Linked DNA regions of Homo sapiens: regions 1 and 3 are each reported to be linked to region 2. The links are microRNA targets in miRTarBase. Many come from high-throughput screens and were not tested one by one. Region 2 holds a microRNA gene; each other region holds the end of a gene's coding sequence.

The links. Region 2 holds the annotated microRNA hsa-miR-3157-5p (UUCAGCCAGGCUAGUGCAGUCU, at 3,698-3,719, opposite strand). A microRNA usually pairs through its seed, bases 2 to 8, with sites in the 3' UTR of a target mRNA and lowers its output. Matches are read on the target gene's strand: a 7mer-m8 pairs with bases 2 to 8, a 7mer-A1 pairs with bases 2 to 7 and ends in A, and an 8mer does both.
Region 1: miRTarBase lists CFAP91 as a target of hsa-miR-3157-5p. The part of its 3' UTR that is shown has no 7-base or 8-base seed match.
Region 3: miRTarBase lists UBE2J1 as a target of hsa-miR-3157-5p. The part of its 3' UTR that is shown has no 7-base or 8-base seed match.

What each region holds. Positions count from the first base shown.
Region 1 is chr3:119,749,930-119,757,132 of GRCh38, forward strand. CFAP91 (cilia and flagella associated protein 91) reads left to right here. Exons shown (of 18, transcript NM_033364.4): 17 at 1,008-1,169. The coding sequence ends at 1,168. Among named protein-coding and RNA genes, the nearest start is that of NR1I2, 29 kb to the right of the region's middle.
Region 2 is chr10:96,060,672-96,067,874 of GRCh38, forward strand. MIR3157 (microRNA 3157) reads right to left here and starts at 3,728; the gene lies at 3,644-3,728. CCNJ (cyclin J) reads left to right here. Exons shown (of 6, transcript NM_001134375.2): 6 at 1-199. The region is part of intron 2 of ENTPD1-AS1 (ENTPD1 antisense RNA 1); the gene reads right to left.
Region 3 is chr6:89,323,785-89,330,987 of GRCh38, reverse strand. It overlaps UBE2J1 (ubiquitin conjugating enzyme E2 J1), which reads left to right. Exons shown (of 8, transcript NM_016021.3): 8 at 1,031-4,363. The coding sequence ends at 1,309. Among named protein-coding and RNA genes, the nearest start is that of GABRR2, 12 kb to the right of the region's middle.

The sequences.
Region 1 (7,203 bases), not on the chromosome of region 2:
CATTTTTAAATGTACACTATCTCAATTTCTTTCAAGAGTTGTAGGTATATTCTCATTTTTCACTTAATGGAAATTAGCTCTTAGAGACATATGACTTGCAAATTTGAACCATGGTCTATGTGACTCCAAAGCCCCCACTTTTTCAACCATATTACTGTGAAGTGCTAAAAACTGCTGAGTGAATTACCCTATCTAAACTACCTGATACCCAAACAGCAAAGAATCCACAGTACTTCTTGCGGTCCTTTACTAGCTATTTGACTTTATGTAAATTACCTAATATCTCTGTGTCCATGTTTCTTCTTCTGAGAATGCGGATATTAAAATACTATCTTCTAGGAGGATTAAATGAATAATTACATGTGAACTGCTTAAAACAGTACCTGGCACAAAGTAAGGACAAATGCTAACTGTTAACATCATCATCATCACTACTCCTTTCCAAGGGCTTAGGTGCTTACCCTGATAGTGAATATTCTTAGAATTTGGAGCTAGGACTATGTTCTAAAGCCATGAGCTCATAAACTCATCATCAATCAGTAAGTCCCTTCCACATTAAGAACTAAGGCTCAAAGAGAAGTATAAGACTAGGTCTTTATATTTGTAAGTTACTTACACTCTAGATATCAAACGAAATGTAACTCACATGAAGTGCTTCAATGCTGAATAGGTTGGTACAAACTCAAGTGCGGTAAGTGGTAAATCTGGGCTGATGTAGTCAGAGGAGACTTCCTGGAGGATCTTGGACATGAGCTTTCCAGGTTTTAGAGTGCAGGCATTCCAGATGAGGGAAACTGCTGAGGAGTGGAATGGAGGCAAGCCTGGTGGAAAGGAGTATGACTGGGCTGAACCAGAGAGTGGGAACAGAGGGAGCAGAAAGAAATTAGATTTGGGTTGGGTTTTACCTTTAATTTGCAAAATTATTTCTATCATGACTCTCTTGAAACATTTGGGAATGGTTTTGTTCAGACTTTCAGAATGAAAATTTTTCTATTACTTTGGCACAGTGAGGAACGCACAGCGGAAACATATTCTTGCAGCCCATCAGATCATCCACAGTTACACGGAAAGCATGGTTCAAAAGAAATTAACTGAGGGAGAGCAAGATGAGGCCTCAAATGCTGCCATGTTACTTGAGAAAGAAACTCAAAATGAGAACAACAGCTAAGGTGAGTTTGATTTTCCACCAGGAAAAAAAGCAGAGAAAGGAAGAAAAGCGGCATTGTTCAGCTTTGTGCTGTGCTCAAACAATCATAATGTGAAGATTGCTGTTTAAGAAATGGAGGACTTCCACTTAAATTGGCACATTTCCTCTAGTTTATGTTATCTACTGTTGAGATTATTAGAAAATTAGAGTTGATATTACAGCAATTAGACTCTTGTGATACAAAAAAGAGGACTCTAAATTATTTTTATGGGTTCTTTTAGCATGTGTGTACCTCGTCAAATGAAGCTATAGAATGTGTCAGTGTTACATATAAACAATCTTGTTCTTATGGAAGTAGACAAGGTATGCCCTAATGCATTGTGCTAGCTGTAAGCATGGCATGAGACACAGAGCCTGCCCAATTCTAGCTCAGACACCTTCTGCAGTGCCCACAAGGGGTTGGTCTTGGGCTCAACTAAAGGCTGTCATACTCATGAGACTAATACAGACCATATTTGGCATGAATGTACTTAGAAAAATATAAGACAGGAAACAGCTTCCAGCAAGGCAACATCAGACATTTCTCTTCCTGTAGGAGCCCTTGCCATACCCATGCAGAACACATAGCTGTTTTCTTTAGTCCTTAGTTTACGGAGTGCAGATACAATACAAGGAAAAGAGGTTCACACCGGGTGGGTACAGGAGCTGCCCTGGCGTAAAACTTCACACCCCAGGGGCTGGAATCTCTTGTAATAATTCCATAGGCATAGCTTCCAGGGTCCCCACCATGGATTTGCCCAGCTACAAAAGTCAACATACTCACAGAAACTCAAAGCTGTGGTTTTCTATTAGGTATACATTCCTCCCAGTTCAGATGGAATTTACCAATCAGGGGTCATTTTTAAGTAGTTCAAATTGCTTAGTAACACAGTTGACACATATCACCTTATCAAGTTACTAGGAGAATAGAGCTAGGGAGTCAACTGAAAGTAAAATTCTCATGAGAAGGGGAATGGAGTGAACTTTTTGCTTATACTTTCTCCCTCAACCCTTTTGTGGTAGAGGCACATCTGCTGCTGTTTTGCCCTGAAGGTATACCAACCATCAGGTTGGGGAGAGTACTGGGGCTAGGGAGAAATTTTAGTTTGGCATTCAGAAGTTTTGTATATTGTCCAGCTCTGCCACCAATTGTATAATCTTACACAAATAATTTCTCTACTTCAGTCCTTGGTCCAATAGAATGGAATCTTAAGTCTCAATCAAAAGGAATCATGGAAGGAGGGTTGAGATGAGAGGGAAGGTAAGAAATATTGCAGAGAGAAAGCTAATAAGTGACTCTTAAATATCAAACTGTGGCTGTAAATTACAGCAGAAAAACTTTTGACTTTAATAGTAAAATAACCTCTGAAATAATTGAAAATATAAAACATCTATTACATGTAATGTTATATATTGTCTATAAAATGTAAATTCAAGGACCAAAGCATTTGGCTACCTTATTATTGTGATAAAAGCAAGCCTTAAGGTTGGGGTAGTCATTTTTCTGACATGCAAATTTAATAAGATTAATAATTTACACAATTTGCATTGAATGCATCTGCCTTTACTTCTGATTATGGTACCTACTCTATGACATCCATAGTGACCTGTGAAATCAAGCCAGAGGAGAAAAAAATCATCTTCTATTTATACTTAGTGAAAGTAAAATATATTTCATTAAAGCCTATGTAAAGCATATATGATAATTATAAAATCTAGTTGCAGAAAAGTCTAGTTGTCAGGCTAACTACAGACACTCAACAAAGATGACCAACCAATAAATTAAATGGTTGGAACATGAAGCTAAGCTGTCCCCAAAGTATATCCTCCCTCTTCCTTCTTGCAGAGGGAAGCAGAGAATGACAGATGTGAGATTATTCAATGATGTCTAGGGAAAGGGGCAGTAGTCATGGGCCACTGATTTAAAATACATATTTAAAAATACATATTTTTAATTAGCTTGAACAGAGAGCTAATAAAGTAGTGAAGAATTTCTGGGCCAAGATCTAGGAGAAGATAGAAATTTAGAGGGTTGGGTCTGGCATTTGGAGCTACTTTTTTCCTGGAAGAATATGACAATTCTAGAAAATGTGGCTGAAAGGCTGAGGAGTATTTTTAAAAGCTTTGCAAAACAAGGGGGACAAAAAACTTGAGTCAAGGTTGGGGCCCTGGTAAACCTTCTTCATTTGGGTAGGGACTCTAAAAGTCTATGCCCTAGTGGTAAGGGTTAACTGGAAGTAAACTATCCCTGGCATATGATATAGTTTAGCTTCTAATCATCTGAGTGATTTTAAAAATCTCAATCCCAGAAATTGAACTTAACGAGATCCTTGGTTTCTATTGCTTCAAGGAACCTGCCAGAAATAAAATGTAAATTCTCTTTACAGAAAGTTAACATTATTCTAGACCTCTATTTTCACAATTTCTAGAACACAATCAAGAATATTCAGGTACGTGAGGAGACATGACAGTCTGAACAAGTGGCAAAACAATAGATGATAGAAACAGACCTAAAAGGATCTAAAATATTGGAATCGTTAGACCCAGACTTTATTTTTTCCATAAGTTATTGGGGTATAGGTGGTATTTGGTTGCATGAGTAAGTTCTTTAGTGGTGATTTGTGAGATTTTGGTACACCCATCACCAGAGCAGTATACACTGCACCATATTTATAGTCTTTTATCCCTCATCCCCTTCCCACTCTTCCCCCCAAGTCCGCACAGTCCATTGTATCATTCTTATGCCTTTGTGATTAGACACAGTCTTTAAAATAACTATGTTGACTACTGTGGACTTCTATCCTCCAGAACTATGGGAAAATACATTTCTGTTGTTTAAGCCATCTAGTCTATGGTGTTTGGTTATGGCAGCCCCAGCTGACTAAGCCAGATTTTGGTACCAGGAGTTGGGTACTACTGTAACAAATACCTAAACATGTGGGAGTGGCCTTGCCACTGGTTATGGGTAGAAGCTGGAAGAGTTTTGAGGTACATACTATATATATGGACATTGAGGGTGATTCTGGTGAGTTGTCAGGTGGAAATATGGAATATGTTATTAGAAACTAGAGGAAAGGTGACCCTTATTATAAAATGGCAAAGACCTTGACTGAACTGTGTTCTAGTGTTTTATGGAAGGAAGAACTTGCAAGCAATGAAATTGGATATTTAGCTGAGGATATTTCTAAGCAAAGTGTTAAAGGAGCAACTTGGTTCCTCCTGACTGCTTATCATAAAATGTGAATGGCAAGAGATGAATTGAAGAAGGAAATGTTAAGCAAAAAGAAATCAGAATGTGAAGATTTGGAAAATTCTTAGCCTATTTATATTGGAAAAAACGAGAAAGCTCTTTCCAATGTGAATGCTAAGGGTGGGTTAACAGACATTTGATAAGTGTATGGGATCATATGAGCAGAAACATTGCAGGATGAAGTTAAGGAAGCCTATTGATTGGACTTCTTGAATTAGACAGGATGGGATGATAGAACTATTCAGCTGCAAACATGCACTATTCTTCAAGAAGAAGGAAAAATGATTCCACAGGAGATCCAGAGATCATCAGGGCCATTGTCCCAGTTTCAACAGCCAGGTGGCTTTCACCATGAGCTTTGGAAGAAGGACCACCCAGTGGACCCCAGCTCAGCAGAGCTATGGGGTGGGACCCTGGGTCAGCAGAGCTACAGGGACAGGACACTTACCTAGAGCCATGGGGATGGGGCATTGTAGAGTCAAAGGGGCAGAGCCATGGGAATGATGTTGCCACCCCAGTGGGCTTAGAAAGCAAGACACTAAGCCAAAGAAGACTATACTCAAGAATTAAGATCCAGTGGAATTTGCCTTGCCAGGTCGTGGACTTGCTTAGGATCCATCACCCATTTTTTTCTTCTGATTTTTCCCTTTTGGAAGGAAATATGTCTCCTATGCCTCTCCCACCATAGCATTTTGGAAGCACATAGTGTGGCTGGTTTCACAGGCTCATAGCTGGAGAATAATTTTGCCTCAGGACAAGTCATATCTTGAGTCTCACCCGTACTTCATTTGGATAATATTTATGAGACTTTGAACTTTAGACTTTAGAGTTGACATGGGAATGAGTTAAGATTTTTGGTATTGTTGGTATAGAATGAATGTACTTTGCATGCAAGAAGAACATGAATTCTACCTGGGGTAGAATGCTTGTGGATTGAAATGTGTCCTTGAAAATGCGTATGTTGAAGCTATAACCCCCAATGTGGTATTTGGAGACAGGACCTTAGGGAGAGAATTAGGTTTAGAGAAGGTAATGAGGGAAGAACCCTCATGATGGGGTTATTGCTTTTATGAGAAGAGACATCACAGTGCTTCTCCTCTCCTTCTTCCACTCCCCCTCTGCCATTCTCCCTCTCTCTCTCTTCCTTTCTCCCTCTCTTCCTCCATCTTCAATGTGAAGACACAGTAAGAAGGTGGCCATCTAGATGACAGGAAGAGAACTCTCAACCAAAACTAACCATGCTGTCACCTTGATCTTGGACTTGTAGCCTCTAGAACTGTGAGAAAAGAAATTTCTGCTGTAAGCTATCCAATCTATGGTATTTTGTTATGACAGCCTGAGCTAAGACACTTACTCTGTTCACAGGGTAAATGCCAATATTGAAAATTTCAAGAGAACTGGACATAATAAAAATGATATAGCAGATTTGAAGAAAATAGAAATTCCAGAATTTAAAAATACAGTAGCAAAAGTGAGAAACTCAGTGAATCTCTCCTGAGAGATATTTAGAAAGAAGCACAGAAAGACAAAAGGATAGAAATTACAGAAGAGAGAGAAGGATAGATTTAGAATAGCTTAATGATTTAGAAAAGGAGAAAGAGTGAGTAGGCATGGACCACTGATTGAAGAAATTTCACTACTAAAGGAAGGAATAATATGTTGGGAGATCATATGGAATACGAATTTTCCAAAAACGATAAAAGACTTGTTTTCAAGAAGACTTCTTAACCCTAAGCAGAATAAATAAAAAGAAAACGATACCTAGATACACCTTAGAATACTAATACTGCTGAAAGCCAAAAAGAAAAAGAAAAACCTTTAAAAGCATTCAGAGAAAAACGATAAATTACCTTCATAAGAGCAATAATTAAGCTGACAGTTGACTTCTCATCAGAAACAATGAAAGCCAAAAAGATGGAATGATATGTTCAATATATTGAAATAGTAAAATAAAGTAGGATTCTAGGCAAACATATTCTTCATGCAAACATATTCTTCAAGAATGGCAACGAAAGACATTTTCAGACAAATGAAACTAATAAAATTTGTCACTAGGAGATCTGCAACACAAGAAATTATTAAAGGGTACTTTTTAAGCAGAAGAAAAATTATCCCAGTTGGAAGGTTGGAAATAAATTTAAGGACAGGTATGTGGATTGGCTTATTGACTGCATAAAAAAATTATAAGAAACAGCAATAATAGGAGCAATGCAGTTATAAAACAAAAGAGTAATATATAAGTCAGAAGAGGGCTAAATGGATTAAATTTTTCTAAGGCACTTGCATTGTTTAGGAGGAGGATAAAAGTATAAGTTGACATTGATAACTCAATGATCCATGACAACTCAAGGATACATTTTGTAACCTCTAGGGTAACTCTGAAAGGATAATAAAGAGATATATGACATCTAAGCTAACAGAAGAAAATGGGACTAAATTTTCAAAACACTCAATACAAAAAGTGGATAGAAAGGAGAAAAAAGGAAACAGAACCAATAGAAAGCACTGAATAAAATGGTAGATGCAAACCAAATTTTATCACTGACTACATTAAATGTAAATAGACAAAATATTCCAAGTAAAGTCAGAATTTACCAGACTGAATAAAAATCATACTAAATTATATGCTGCTTGCAGGAAGCCTATATAAAATCTAAATATACAAATGGTTGTAAGTTAAAAGATTGAAAAAGATACCATAAAAACACCACCCATAGAAAAGCAGATATAGCAATATTCATATCAAAGAAAACTTTAAGGCAGAAAG
Region 2 (7,203 bases):
ACTGTGAAGAGATTAATATGTATGAAGGGCTTTACCAAAGTCCACTAAATAAACACTACTCAAGTACAGACTGCAAACCAAAATGTATCTGTGTTACGACATTAATTGCAAATAGCAAGTATGGTGCTAAAGTCTACACCAATGGAATTAGATGAGTGCTATGCACTTAATTTTAAAATAAAACTAGTTTTCAGTAAAATGGCTTCGGTATTTTTGTTTTAAATACAAACTTGTATATTTGCAGCTCTAGTGAACCATCTCATCATGTAATTCAGACTTGGAATCATGATTTTATTTACTAAAAGCCATCAAGATGTAGAATATAGCCATTAGTGGCATAAAACATCCGTTCATTGCGTATTCCATACTGAGCATTAAAGCCCACAAAAGTATATTGGACACCACTGTTGCCTTTTTGAGCTTAAAATCAGTTGTTAGTATGTTAGCAACTACAGATTCTAATTTATTCAACAATCATGCAAGCATCAGAAAATCTGAAGTTTGATGTCAAAAGTAGGGACACAGAAAATGGTTAAAGCTATGAGAAGGAATATAGGGTCTACAGTGAGTGAGAATGGTCTATTTACCTGAGTATAAATATCATTTGCTACTTAATTCAACTCAAACCTTAGCAGATGGAATTTGTTTTGAAAAGTAAAATTTAACAGGTTTGTACAAGCGGGTTAGGAATTTACACTGCCTTTTTAAAAAACATTTTTGAAATTAGTCTCAAAACTATCGTATTGTCACTTGTTCTGGCACAGTGCCAGGGTTTAGCAGCCCTCAAGAGTTAATATACCATGTTCTTTAGGGCTGACTTTAAGAAAAAGAAAAAGCATTCCAAACCAGGCCAGGTAGCTTTGCCTTGAGGTGATCTGAGCCCCATGTGGCAAGTTTATAACCAACAACTGCCTCTCAGGCACGTGGTAAAAGCCTCCCTAGCCTCAAGCAGCTTACATCTAGTTTGATAAATACGACTAGCACACTTGCAGCAATTAGGCTAGTAGAGGCCCGCACGGTGGCTCATGCCTGTAATCCCAGCATTTTGGGTGGCTGAGGCCAGTGGATCACTTGAGGCCAGGAGTTTGAAGCCAGCCTGGGCAACATGGTGAAACCCTGTCTCTACTAAAAGTACAAAAACTAGCTGGGTGTGGTGGCACGTACCTGTAGTCCCAGCTACTTGGGAGACTGAGGCACAGGAATCACTTGAACTCAGGAGGTGGAGACTGCAATAAGCTGAGATCACACCACTGCACTCCAGCCTGGGCAACAGAGCTAGAGTCTGCCACTAAATAAAATTAGGCTGGTGTAGTCTGGAACTCGGTTTAATATCGTGTTAGTTTAGGAATCACTCAACATTCATTTTTCAATCCCTTAGATTTTAAAGTAGCAAGTACAGTCAGTTGACAGCATAAGGACCAGGCTCAGGGATCATATGGGAAGGACACCTGCTATCCTATCCTTGCCTGACTACCACTCTGTTTCCTCCCATAACACCCTCTGCCTCCCAGGTAAGCATCACCACCCTGAATTTATTAGTTCTTAAGTCCATGAAGCCTTGACATGGTATGCAATTTATATGTAAATGATTTCCCCTATTCTTAAAGTTTTGTCTACTCAAAGGGACCTGTAATTAAAAATGTAAGAGTGACTGTCTTGTATCCATTTACTTGCTAGTTTCTCCCTACTAGAACCTTGTGTTAGGCCGTTCTCGCATTGCTATAAAGAAATACTCAGGACTGGGTAATTTATAAAGAAGAGAGGTTTAACTGGCTCATGCTTCTGTAGGCTGTACAGGGAGCATGGAGCTGGCATCTGCTTGGCTTCTGGGAGGCCTCAAGAAACATGGCAGAAGGGTAAGCAGGAGCAGGAATCTCACTTGGTGGGAACAAGTGGGGGTAGGCGAAGGTGCCACACACTTTAACCAGATCTCACATGAAGTGAACTCACTATCACAAGGACAGCACCAAGCCATGAGGGATCCGCCCCCATGACAAACACCTCCCACTAGGCCCCACCTCCAACATTGGGGATTACATTTCAACATGGATTTGGGTGGGGACAAATATCTAAACTATGTCAAACATATCTTCCCTCTGTCTGCCAGGCTGGAGCGCAGTGTTGCCATTATGGCCCACTGCAGCCTCGACCTCCTGGGCTCAAAAAATTCTCCCACTTCAGCCTCCTGAGTAGCTAGGATCGTAGGCATACACCACCACATGCCTGGCTCATTTTTACAATTTTTTGTAGAGGTGGGGGTTTGCCATGTTACCCAGGCTGTCCTTTTTTTTTCTTAAGATTTTTAATTTTAGAACAGCTTAGATGTACAGAATTATTACTAAGATAGTACACAGAGTCCCCATATAGCCCACAGCCAGTCTCTCTTCTTATTAATATATTGAGATGGTACATTTGTCACAATGCACCAGTACTGATGTACTATTACTAACAGAAATCCATGCTTTATTCAAATTTCCTTAGTTTTTCCCTAATATCCTTTTTCTCTCCCAGATTCCTATGCAGGATATCACATTACCTTTAGCACTCAGGTCTTAGGCAACTCTGGGTTGTGACAGTTACTCAGACTTTGTCTGTGATGACCTCGACAGTTCTGAAAATCCGTGGTTAGGTATTTCATAGAATGAACATATGTTTCTTGAGAGCAGGGATTTTGTCTTACTCATCTTACGCCCCTGTGTGTGATAGGGATCTGATGTATGATAGCACATCATAGGCTCTTGGGATGTAGGTAACAAAAAATTGGCCAGCACGGTGGCTCACACCAGTAATGCCAGCACTTCTGGAGGCCAAGGTGGGTGGATCACTTGAGCTCAGGAGTTCAAGACCAGCCTGGCCAACATGGCAAAACCCCATCTCTACAAAAAATAAAAAAACTAGCTGGGCGTGGTGGTGTGTGCCTGTAGTCTCAGCTACTTGTGGGGCTGAAGCAGGAGGACTGCTTGAGCCCAGGAGGTCGAGGCTGCAGTGAGCCATGTTTGTGCCACTATACTCCAGCCTGGGTGACAAAGTGAGACCCTGTCTCAAAACAACAACAACAAAAATGCAGTGTAAAAGTAGGCAGTGACTAATAAACAAATGCTGCCTTGGGTTGATTTAAAAAGTAGAGTACTCTGATCATAGGAAGGCACAGTCCCATCAGATTCAGCACTGGTTAGATCGTATCTACAAAAATCTTGTGAACTGAATTTTAAGTGGAATGGTGATAAACCCAAGTTTTGCCACAAGCTGGTGATGGGTCCAGGAATCATGTTATATGAGTAACAACTGAAGGAACTGGTGGTGTTTTCACCTGGGGAAGCCTAAGGAAAGGTAAAATGCTTGTCTTCCCAGATGTGAGAAGTCCTATTACTGCAAAGGGCAGAATTAAGTCAGTGGTCCAAAGTTTCTCACATTTCAATGAATAATAAGCCAGAATGTTACAAACAGAGTAGTGCTGCTTTGAGAGTTCCTGAGTTCCTAGTTAACAGAGGCCCCTGACATAGACCAGAAATGGGATGGAAGTAATCCTTGAACTTGGGTGTAAACATCTTCCAATTCTCAAGAGCTTCTGAAGCTCTAAAGAGTTTCTGAAGAGTTTCTAAAGGTTTTATGGACCTGGGACTTGAGCTGGGTGTAGAAAGAAGGGAAAAGCTTCAGCTAGACTAGGGCAGTCATCACCCCAGTGTTGGCACAAAGCAGACTGCACTAGCCTGGCTGAAGCCCTTCCCTTCTTATATTCTCAGCTCAATTGTTGGACAGTGAGGGCAGACTCATTGAGAAGTTGTAGAGGAAATAAAGTTGAGTGAGTAGAATGAGGTTGAGTTACGGAGTTTTGAAAGCCAGAAGAGAATACAGACTTTGTGGGGTCAGAGATATCGCTGAGGATTTGTGATATGATACTGGTGATTTTAGGAAGAATGATGATTTTAGGAAGATTGGTTTTAGAAAGAATAATGATTTTAGAAAATGGTGGTTTTAGGAAGAATGATCTGACAGTATCAGGGTAGGTTAGTAAGAGAAGATGGGAGTCAGAAAGCTTTCTGCAATAATGACAAATTGAGTAAGAATGGTACATGGATATTTAATGGTACAAAGGTAAACCCTAAGAAAGAAAACAAAATTGATAGAATTGAGGGATAGAATAAAGGAAAGGAAATATACTAATTCTGTTATTACTTATAAAAGTGAATTACAGATACTGAGATACTGGCTAAATAGAAAACAGAAATACTGATTATACAATCTGTATTACAAAGTTAACTACAGGAACAAAAACACAAAGCTTTCTAATTATGAAAAGAAGGAATAAAACAAAGCAAACTTTCCATATAGTAAACTATACTTTAAAGGTATAAATAGCAAAAGTATAACAAAATAATCTGACAGAACTAAGTCCAAACATATCAAATCAATAAATGAAAACAAACTCAACTATTAAGGGAAAAAGAACTTCAGACTGAATCACAAAGTGAAACTCAAATCTATGTTGTATGAGAGACAGGTCTAAAATAAAATGATTAAGAAAGGTTGAAGATCAACGAAAAAGTAGAGATACCAGAAAAACTCAAACAAAAAGCAAGGATCAAGATCTTAATAACAGACAAGGCTGAATTTTGGCCAAAATGTATTAAACCAAATTTTAAAAAGGGCACTTTATAATGCTAAAGGTTACAGTTCATGATAAGGATGAAGTTATTAATACTTCTGGATCAAATAACTGTAGCAATATTATGCACAAACTATAAAGGTTTTACAGAGAAATAAAAGAAAAACATGGGGCAGGGTGCAGTGGCTCACGCCTGTAATCCCAGCACTTTGGGAGGCCGAGGCGGGCGAATCACGAGGTCAGGAGATCGAGACCATCCTGGCTAACACGGTGAAACTCCGTCTCTACCAAAAATACAAAAAGTTAGCCGGGTGTGGTGGCGGGCGCCTGTAGTCCCAGCTACTCCAGAGGCTGAAGCAGGAGAAAGCTCCAGGAGGCGGAGCTTGCAGTGAGCCGAGATGGCGCCACTGCACTCCAGCCTGGGTGACAGAGCAAGACTCCGTCTCAAAAAAAAAAAAAAAGATGGTAGGTAAGAAACTAATTTATTTCTCTAAGTCCATGACAGATCAGTAACATTAAAAAAAAAAAAAGCAAGGATATACAAAACCCTAACACACCATTATGGTTCATCTAATGGACACATATTAGATATTCTGAGAAGGAAATGGTGCAGACCTGGAATAACAAAGACGGCAGAGAAAACAAAGTACACCGCCAGATGTACAGAGATAGCCTGTCACGCATGCCAACAGCAAAATTCTGTCTTCTAAAGAGTCCTTAGATAACTGAAATTGCTTTCTTTGTTGACCCATCTAGGTGCCTGAGATCAGAATATCCTTACTGGCCTCTTTGCTAGCTACCAGCTAATCTGCAGCTTATCTAGAGAAAATAAAATTCATGGTTTCCAAACTGCAAAAACACTTCCACTTTTGCCTTTGTTAGATGAGGTCAATCCATTACTGGATTTCACTTTACACAACAGTATACTAATAACTGACTATATTTCTGTAAGTTTTCTTGGATAATATCAAACTCTAATGTGAGGTTTTACAAAACTTGACTATGTATTAATCCACCAAAAAACTGCAACAATTCCAAAAAGTAGAATTACTACAGAAGACATATTCTGATGAAAATGTGACTAAAAAGAAATATGTAATAGGACCAAAGAACTCAAATAATCTTTAGGTCAAATAAGAAATCGAAACTGAAATTTCAAATTATCTAGAAAATCACTTGTAACAAAAATTCTACGTATCATGAGCTCTGGGATAAAACTAAAGCAATGCTCAGAATAAAATTAACATCCAACTGAAAAAGTCTAAGAACAAGAAACCAAACAAAAGCAGGAGGAAAGAAATAAGACAAAAGCAGTAAAAATGAATTATAAAAGGGAAAAAGAAAAAAACTAATACCTACCTATACATGCAATACAACTAAACAAGAGAAAATAAAATACAGTTTAAACATTGGGAAGGAGGAGGTAAAATTACAACTATTTGCAGAATCAATGTATACCTGGAAATGCAAGGTAATCAACTGAAAAACTATCACACGTGATAAGGAAATTTAGTAAATTGGCTGGCTACACAATTAAAATAGCTCTCATATATACAAACAACAACCAATTAGATTTAATGCAAGATATACTCAATTATAATGGCCACCAAAATAAGACAAAATGGCAATAAATACAACACATGCACAAGATCTACATAAAGAAAACTCTAAAATACTTATGACACAAAAGAAAGTTGCACAAGGCATACCATATACTTTTATAGAAAGTGTAAACTTTATAAAGATGTCAATTGTCCTTAATCTATAAATTTAACATACTCTAACAAGGTAATTTTTTTAAATTACCTAAATAAAGAATAATGAATATAGAAAAGCCCCATGACATATTAAAATATATTACAAATCTATAAAAAATAAAAATGGTACTGGCAAATGAGTTGACACACAATTCTGTGAAACAGAACAGAAATTCCCAAAATAAACATATTTAGAATTTATTATATAATAAAGGTGGTATCTTAAATTAGTAGAGGAAAATAAATATTATTCAATAAATTGAGTTAGGTCAACTGGGTAGCCACCTAGAAAAACAAATTTGGATTCCACACCTCAAAAAATTTAAGTTTTAGGCTGGGCACAGTGGCTTATGCTTGTAATCCCAGCATTTTAGGAGGCTGAGGTGGGAGGATTGTTTGAGGCCAGGAGTTTGAGACCAGCCTGGGTGATATAGCGAGACTCTCGTTTCTGTAAAAAATACAAAAATTAGCCAGGTGTAGTGGTACGTGTCTGTAGTTCTAGCTACTATGGAGGCTGAGGTGGGAGGATCACTTGAATCCAGGAGTTCAAAGACAAGCTTGAGCAACACAGTGAGATCCCATCCCTACAAAAAAATTTAAAAATTAGCCAAGCATGATGGTGCATGCCTGTAGTCCCAACTACTAGGGAGGCTGAGGTGGGAGGATCGCTTGAGCCCAGAAGTTGGAAATTACAGTGAGCTATGATCTCACCATTGCACTCCAGCCTGGGCAACAGAGTGAGACCTCATCTCTTAAAACAAAATTAAATAAACAAATAAAACATTTAAATTCTGACCAAAAAGAAACCATGGAAGAATTATTTTATAACCTCAAAGACAG
Region 3 (7,203 bases), not on the chromosome of region 2:
AACACTGAAGGCAGTTTTGTTCTTGCAGTCTGTCAGATTTTCTCCTTTTCCCAGGGTAGGGATCGAGGTTCTGAATAAGCCATTTCATTTTATAATAAAAAGCAAAACTCCCTCACACATGCTGGTTATTCTAGAAAAATTTATATATATATCACTAGGGACTTAACTAAGAATGTGATTTTTTATCTTTTTAAGGGAGAGTCTCACTCTGTTGCTCAGGTTGGAGTGCAGGCATGTGATCATAGCTCACCGAAGCCTCAACCTCCTGAGCTCAAGTGATCCTCTTGCCTTAACCTCCCAAGTAGCTAGGACCACAGGTGGGCATGACCACACCTGGCTAAGTTTTAAAATTTTTCTGTAGAGATAGTGTCTCACTATGTTGGCCAGACTGGTCTCAGATGCCTGGGCTCAAGCAGTCCTCCTGCCTCAACCTCCCAAAGTGCTGTATGATTGTTTTAAATAGGAAAAAATTTAGAATTTTATAATATCAAGGCACTTAATTTTTAGTTAGTGATATACCATCCAAAAGGCATCTGAGGCTGGGCACGTTGGTTCATGCCTATAATCCCAGCACTTTGGGAGGCCAAGGCAGGAGGATCGCTTGATCCCAGGAGTTCAAGACCAGCCTGGGCAATGTAACAAGATCCCATCTCTAAAAAAATAATGATTAAAAAAATAGAGACAAAAGGCATCTGAAACATAGGAACCTAATTAAAACATTATATGTATATACATATTTTCATTAAGCGTATGTGTTAAAATATCATCTAGACCAATGTTTTAAGGGATTGTTTTTCTAAATATATTAATAAAACTATTAAAAGGCCAAAAAGCTGTCCTAACTTATGACTTTTTTTTGAACCTAAATTTAGATGCCCCTCAAGGGATGTATTATTAGTAACAATCATTCTTGGTAGTGTTGCCCTTAGTCATATGTTGTCCTCTGAGATTGTGTATTCTTGAATAGATAACAAGTGTATTTACAAATCTTCTTTGCCAGTTTCAAACAAAGTTTCTTAAAATTTCCTAGTACGGACTCCAGAATTCCTCAGCAGCATCCTTTCATCAACCTACCCAACCTGTAGCTAAGAATACCTCCATGAGCCCTCGACAGCGCCGGGCCCAGCAGCAGAGTCAGAGAAGGTTGTCTACTTCACCAGATGTAATCCAGGGCCACCAGCCAAGAGACAACCACACTGATCATGGTGGGTCAGCTGTACTGATTGTCATCCTGACTTTGGCATTGGCAGCTCTTATATTCCGACGAATATATCTGGCAAACGAATACATATTTGACTTTGAGTTATAATATGGTTTTGTGACTTATGAGCTGTGACTCAACTGCTTCATTAAACATTCTGCATTGGGTATAATCTAAGAATTGTTTACAAAAAGATTATTTTGTATTTACCCTTCATTCCTTTTTTTGATCCTTGTAAGTTTAGTATAAATATATCTAGACATTCAGACTGTGTCTAGCAGTTACGTCCTGCTTAAAGGGACTAGAAGTCAAAGTTCCTTGTCTCACTATTTGATCTGCTTTGCAGGGAAATAACTTGTTTTTTCTCATGTTTCATCTTCTTTTTATGTAAATTTGTAATACTTTCCTATATTGCCCTTTGAAATTTTTGGATAAAAGATGATGTTTTAAGTTCCAATGAGTATTACTAGTTACTCAATACCACTTATTGAGTACTCTGTTTCTACGTATGTAGAATGTATAGGGATAGAAGAGTTGAAAAGGGAAAGCAAAACTCCTCAAGTAGCTTCCTTAAAATGTCATTCATAGGAGATGTACTGGAATTGCTCATTCTGTGACTTTATTTGTGTCCTAAACATTCTTCAGTGAAAATAATTTTATTTCAGTCAAACATTTATGAGGAAATGAGATCACATCTTTGTCACTGGATGCTACTTGAAGAGGGAGTACTTTGTAACCACTTTGATATGCTGTTATCACCACCCCCTGCCCTCTGCTGCCATAATCACACAAATTTAAAAAGAAAGAAAACAGTCTTCCATAGATTTTTAAGGAAGAAAGGGCCCAAGCCAGGAGATCGCTTGGTTTTCTTCCAGAAGTTAAATGGGGGGATCTGAAGATTTGAATGTTTGGTCTGCTTTGAAATGTATGTCTTTTGGGATGTATTATATGCCTAGCTTTATAATCAGTATAAATTTTAATTATTCCAGGAATATGCATAATATTGAAATATTTCATGTCCTATTTTAATAGAAAACCTCAGGGCCCAAGTAACAGTGATAGAAGTTAGAAAAACCTTTACTTAGAATTGTCCACCTAGTCAGAGCCCAAGAAAGAATTTTCAGTGGAAAAATCAATATATAACTTAGTGCTAGCTAGCGCCACAGACTCTAGTAGATAATATTATCATCATAATGGCTGGTGAAACCATATAATCACAGAAAAACATTGCCTTCAGCATGTTCAGTTCGCAGCACTGAGGGCACTCTTGAGGGTGTTGTTAATGAAGATTTAATTTTTAAATACAGGTGGTTCCAAGCTTTCAAATAGGTTATGCTCCAAAAGTGTTATTTGTAAGTTAATTTTTTTACAAGTCAAACAATGTTGGAAGTGGTATTTAGGTTCTAGATCGGTCCACGAAAGTTAGCCCATATGTATATCTTGAATAGTATAGGGGAGGGTATTCATAAAGTCCTTATGTGGTTTTAACTAAGTGAAATTATGGACAAGAGAAATAATTGTAAAATCGTCTTAAAGGAAAATTTAATTTTTACTCCTGTTTATGGGACATTCGTTCTATTAACTGTCAGACACAATTTCTGTTTTCATCTGAGAGCCAGTTTTCCTTTATTTCTACATCTAAAATAAGAACATATTGTACACTATTATATAATACAGAATTGTCTTAAACTTTAATAAATTCGCATTTTAAAGGTGTTTACAGATTATTTTTTATATCTGTAGCTGAATTTGTTAAAGTCTAAAAAGCTCAAGGACTTTATGAAGATCTCATTATATGAGGAAAATCATAGGTTACCATTTTATAACTCTATTGCCATAAGAAAATACACTCTAAAATCTTGATTTGAAACATATTAGAAACCTTGATTCAGTGCTCAGTGGTCTCCTAGTAAGAAGTCACCGACGGTAGCGTCATATGAGAAGAAAGAAATCCCCACCACCTCAACCTCTGCTGAGATTGTGTGCTAGGAACAGCCTTCCCTCCGTTTCCCCTCAGTCAAACTTGAGCCAGCCTCTGGATCGATGTGATCTTATTGCATGTTTCCATGGGGTGTACCTATACTTTAAGCCAATCCTGCTGCATTCACTGCTAAGTTAAATAAAAAGCCAAGAAGATTTTGCACTGTGCAGATCCTTTGCTATCTGACTTGCATCTCTTCCCCCACCTGTCAGCTAGCCACCTGCTTGTTTGTGTTGGGATATTTTTTAGCACCTGAAGCACCATCTGAAAGGGGCACCATTTTCTTCTTCCCTTTGATCTCACATATGCTCCCTAAAAATCCTTAAGTTGTCAATCTGATCCCCAGTGTGAGGTTAATGAGCAAAATTGGTCTTTGGGGCCCTTTTTGTCCAAGCCCCACTGAAAGGCCTCTTCAGAAAACTATTATCTTTAAAGCCCTACTTTAACTCCTTAATTCCAGCATACAGCTAAAACTGGATGTATATTCTGGCAAGTAAAGGCTGAGGACTCCTCTTTAATCCTCAGATCTAGATAACTCATGACATTTTATTTGACCAACATAGCACATGATGAGATATCAAGGTAATTAAAATAGCATGCTTGAAAAAAAAATACGTAATCTGTTTCACCTGTAACTGTTTAAGCCAATAAACTTTTCAAAATTTATGTAATGTGGGGCTTTTATGTAGCACTTTACGTTTTCATGCTGCTTATTGTTTTATTCTACTGAAAAAAATGAATTTCAAGATTCTCAACTTTTTTAATTTCAAAAATTGTTTATTGTTTTGACTATAGGAATACAAAATTTCCTATTTTGGGAGAATAAGAACTCTTTTTGTCATTTTTGGCTATGAATAAACTTTCTGGTCTTTTGAGACCACCCATTTTTATAGATCAGAATCAGAAAACAGGTAAACCTCACTCACACATTTGGACTCATTTGAACAAAAATCTAGGCCAAAATACTGAAAAGCCTATGTGTTTTTTTAATTGGAAGTATATGTAAGGTTAATGCATTTAGTGAACGTGACTAACAAAGACTAATGTGCACATTAACAGATGTACTTTTTAAGGTTTTATGGGAGGCTGTGCATTGCTCAAAAGCTGTTGGGAACGCCTTCTGAACAGTTGCCTTCAGAACTAGTTTGAGCTGCTCAATAAAACCAGTGACTTTACTCATACCTTGTTTTTGACCAAAGGTTGTATTCTTTACATCATCCAGTCTTGTCTCTCATCCATTCTACCTCCTAGAATATTTCTCTCTCATCTTTCCACTTCCCTAACTAGGCACTATATCCTATTTAGCTATTAACTCCTCCAAATTGGTGCAGTAACCTCCTAACAGGTCTCTAGTCTCACCCCATTCCTTACATTGCAGCCAGAGTTTTCAATATACAGACCTGATCTCTTCTCTCCTGTTGCTCTTAGATAGGGTGAAACCCTTAACATAAAGCACAAGGCTGTGCATGACTAGAGTCCCACCTAGGTGTCTGGCATAATCAGACCTCAGCAAATGCCTTTGGGGCCTTCCCACAGCTCTGACCTCGATCCACTGGGGCTATACCCTGCCCTGAGAAAAATGAGTAAATAAAGTTATACCATCCACTACCTCATACACCATATAAGAAAATTAACTCAAAATGGATCAAAGGCCTAAATGTAAGAGTTAAAACTATAAAATTCTTGGAAACTTAGTAAACGTGACAATGGGATATGCAGTGGTTTCTTAAATATGATATCAAAAGCACAAGCAGGTCTGGCATGGTGGCTCAGGCCTATAATCTCAGCATTTTGGGAGGTGGAGGATCACTTGAGGCTGGGAGTTTGAAACCAGCCTGGGCAACATAGCAAGACCCTGTGTCTACAAAAAATTTAAAAAAAATTAGCCTGTAGCCCTAGCTATGCAGGAGGTGGAGGTGGGAGAATTGCTTGAACCCAGGAGTTTGAGGTTACAGCGAGCTGTGATAGCACCACTGCACTCCAGCCTGGGCCACAGAGCAAGATCGTACCTCTTAAAAAAAAAAAAAGAAAAACACAAGCAACCAAAAAAAAAAGAAAATTATATTTCTTTAAATAAAAAACTCTTGTGTATCAAACAACACCACTAAGAAAGTGAAAAGACAACACAATGGGAGAAAATATTTGCAGATCACATATCTAATAAGGGACTTGTATCTGAAATATCTAAATAATTACAATTCAGTAATAAAAAGGAAATAACCTGATTTTAAAATGGCAAATAATTTGAATAGAGATTTCTACAAAGAAGATATCCAAATGCCCAATAAGCACCTGAAAAGAAGCTCAACATCCTTAGTCATTAGGGAAATGCACATTAAAACCACAGTGATTCCAGTTTACACTCACAAGGATGGTCAGAACAAAAAAGCCAGATAACAAGTGTTCGTGAGGATGTGGAGATATTGGAACTCGCATACATTGCTGGTGGGAAGGTAAAATGGTGCAGCCACTTTGAAAAACAATTTGGCAGTTCCTCAAAAGGTTAAATATAAAGTTACCATATGACCCAGCAATTTCACTGCCACATATAATATCCAAAAGGAATGAAAACATTTACACACAACCTTGTACACAAATATTCATAGCAGCATTATTTTTAATAGCCCCAAAGCAGAAACTCAAATGCCCAGCTGATGGATAAGCAATATGTTGTATCTATACATACAACATATTGTATGTATATGGAAATGGAATTGTATGTCTATGGACATATTGTATGTCTATGGAAAATGGAATATTATGGCCATAAAAAAGAATGAAGTGATGATATATGCTTCATTGATGAACCCTGGAAACATTACGCTGAGTGAATGAAATCAGACACAAAAGGCTGCATATTATATCATTCTAATTACATAAAATGTCTAGAATTGACAAATTCATAGAGACAGAAACTAGTGTTGGTTGCCAGGGGCTGAAGGGAATGGGAAAGGGGAATGACTTCTAATGGGTATGAGTCTTCTTTTAGGGGAGCTGCATAACGGAATATTCCAAAAGCCACACATTAAAGGGGTGAGTTTATGGTATGTGAATGATATTTCAATAAAGTTGTGATTAAAAAAATAATTATACCATCCTACAATGGTTTTCTCCTGACTGTAATTACAATAATTGAACTATTGATAAAAGGGCTTTAAAGTAAAAAATTGGTAGGACCTAAAGTTGTCTACATGCAACAAAACAAATATTTATTGAAAACCACCACCTTAAGCTGCCTTTACAAAAATTATAACTGAGAAAATTATGACAGTAAAAGAGATCTGACCTGACTCTTATCTTGCTTCTGACCTCCCAGCTGCCCTTGTTCATTCCTGAGCGTAGGTTAAACTAACTTTGGGAGGAACTTAGTTTATAGTTTAACTTTGAAACAAAGACAGTAACAGCCCTTTTCCAAAACAAGCCCTCTATCCACCAAATTATCTTGAAAAGCCACGATCGCTGAGTTTTCCAGGAGTCTGATTTGAGTAATAATAAAACTCCAGTCTTCCATACAACCAGCTCTGCATGAATTGAACTCTTTATTCCAATTCCCCTGTCTTGATGAATTGGCTTTGCCTGGACAGTGCGCAAGGGGAACTTGTTGGGTGATTACACATCCAGGCACAATCCTAGGGTTCAAGCCAGTCCTTTATAAGCTTATTCCAAATGGAAGTAAGGAAAAGAAAGATCCTTTGAACAAAATCTATGGAAAAGAACTTTAATAGGCCTCATGCCTCCCACTACTAAGGCTTCAGGAGGAGAAGGACTTTTAAACAAATTCCCTTGATGATTCTGAGGCGTGGTCAGATTTGGGAACCACTGAATTAGTCCCTGTAATGAATTACTCCCAGCCTCAAGTACCTATTTAACCCATTGTCATTTGGCTTCCTGCTGCATTTCACAAGTGAAACTGCATTTACGGAAGTCAGGAATGATGTGCTGTTGCCAGATCCAGTAACCTATTTTCTGCCTTTGCCTTGCTTGACTTCTTCACAGCACTGCATGTTGACTACCCTCCTCC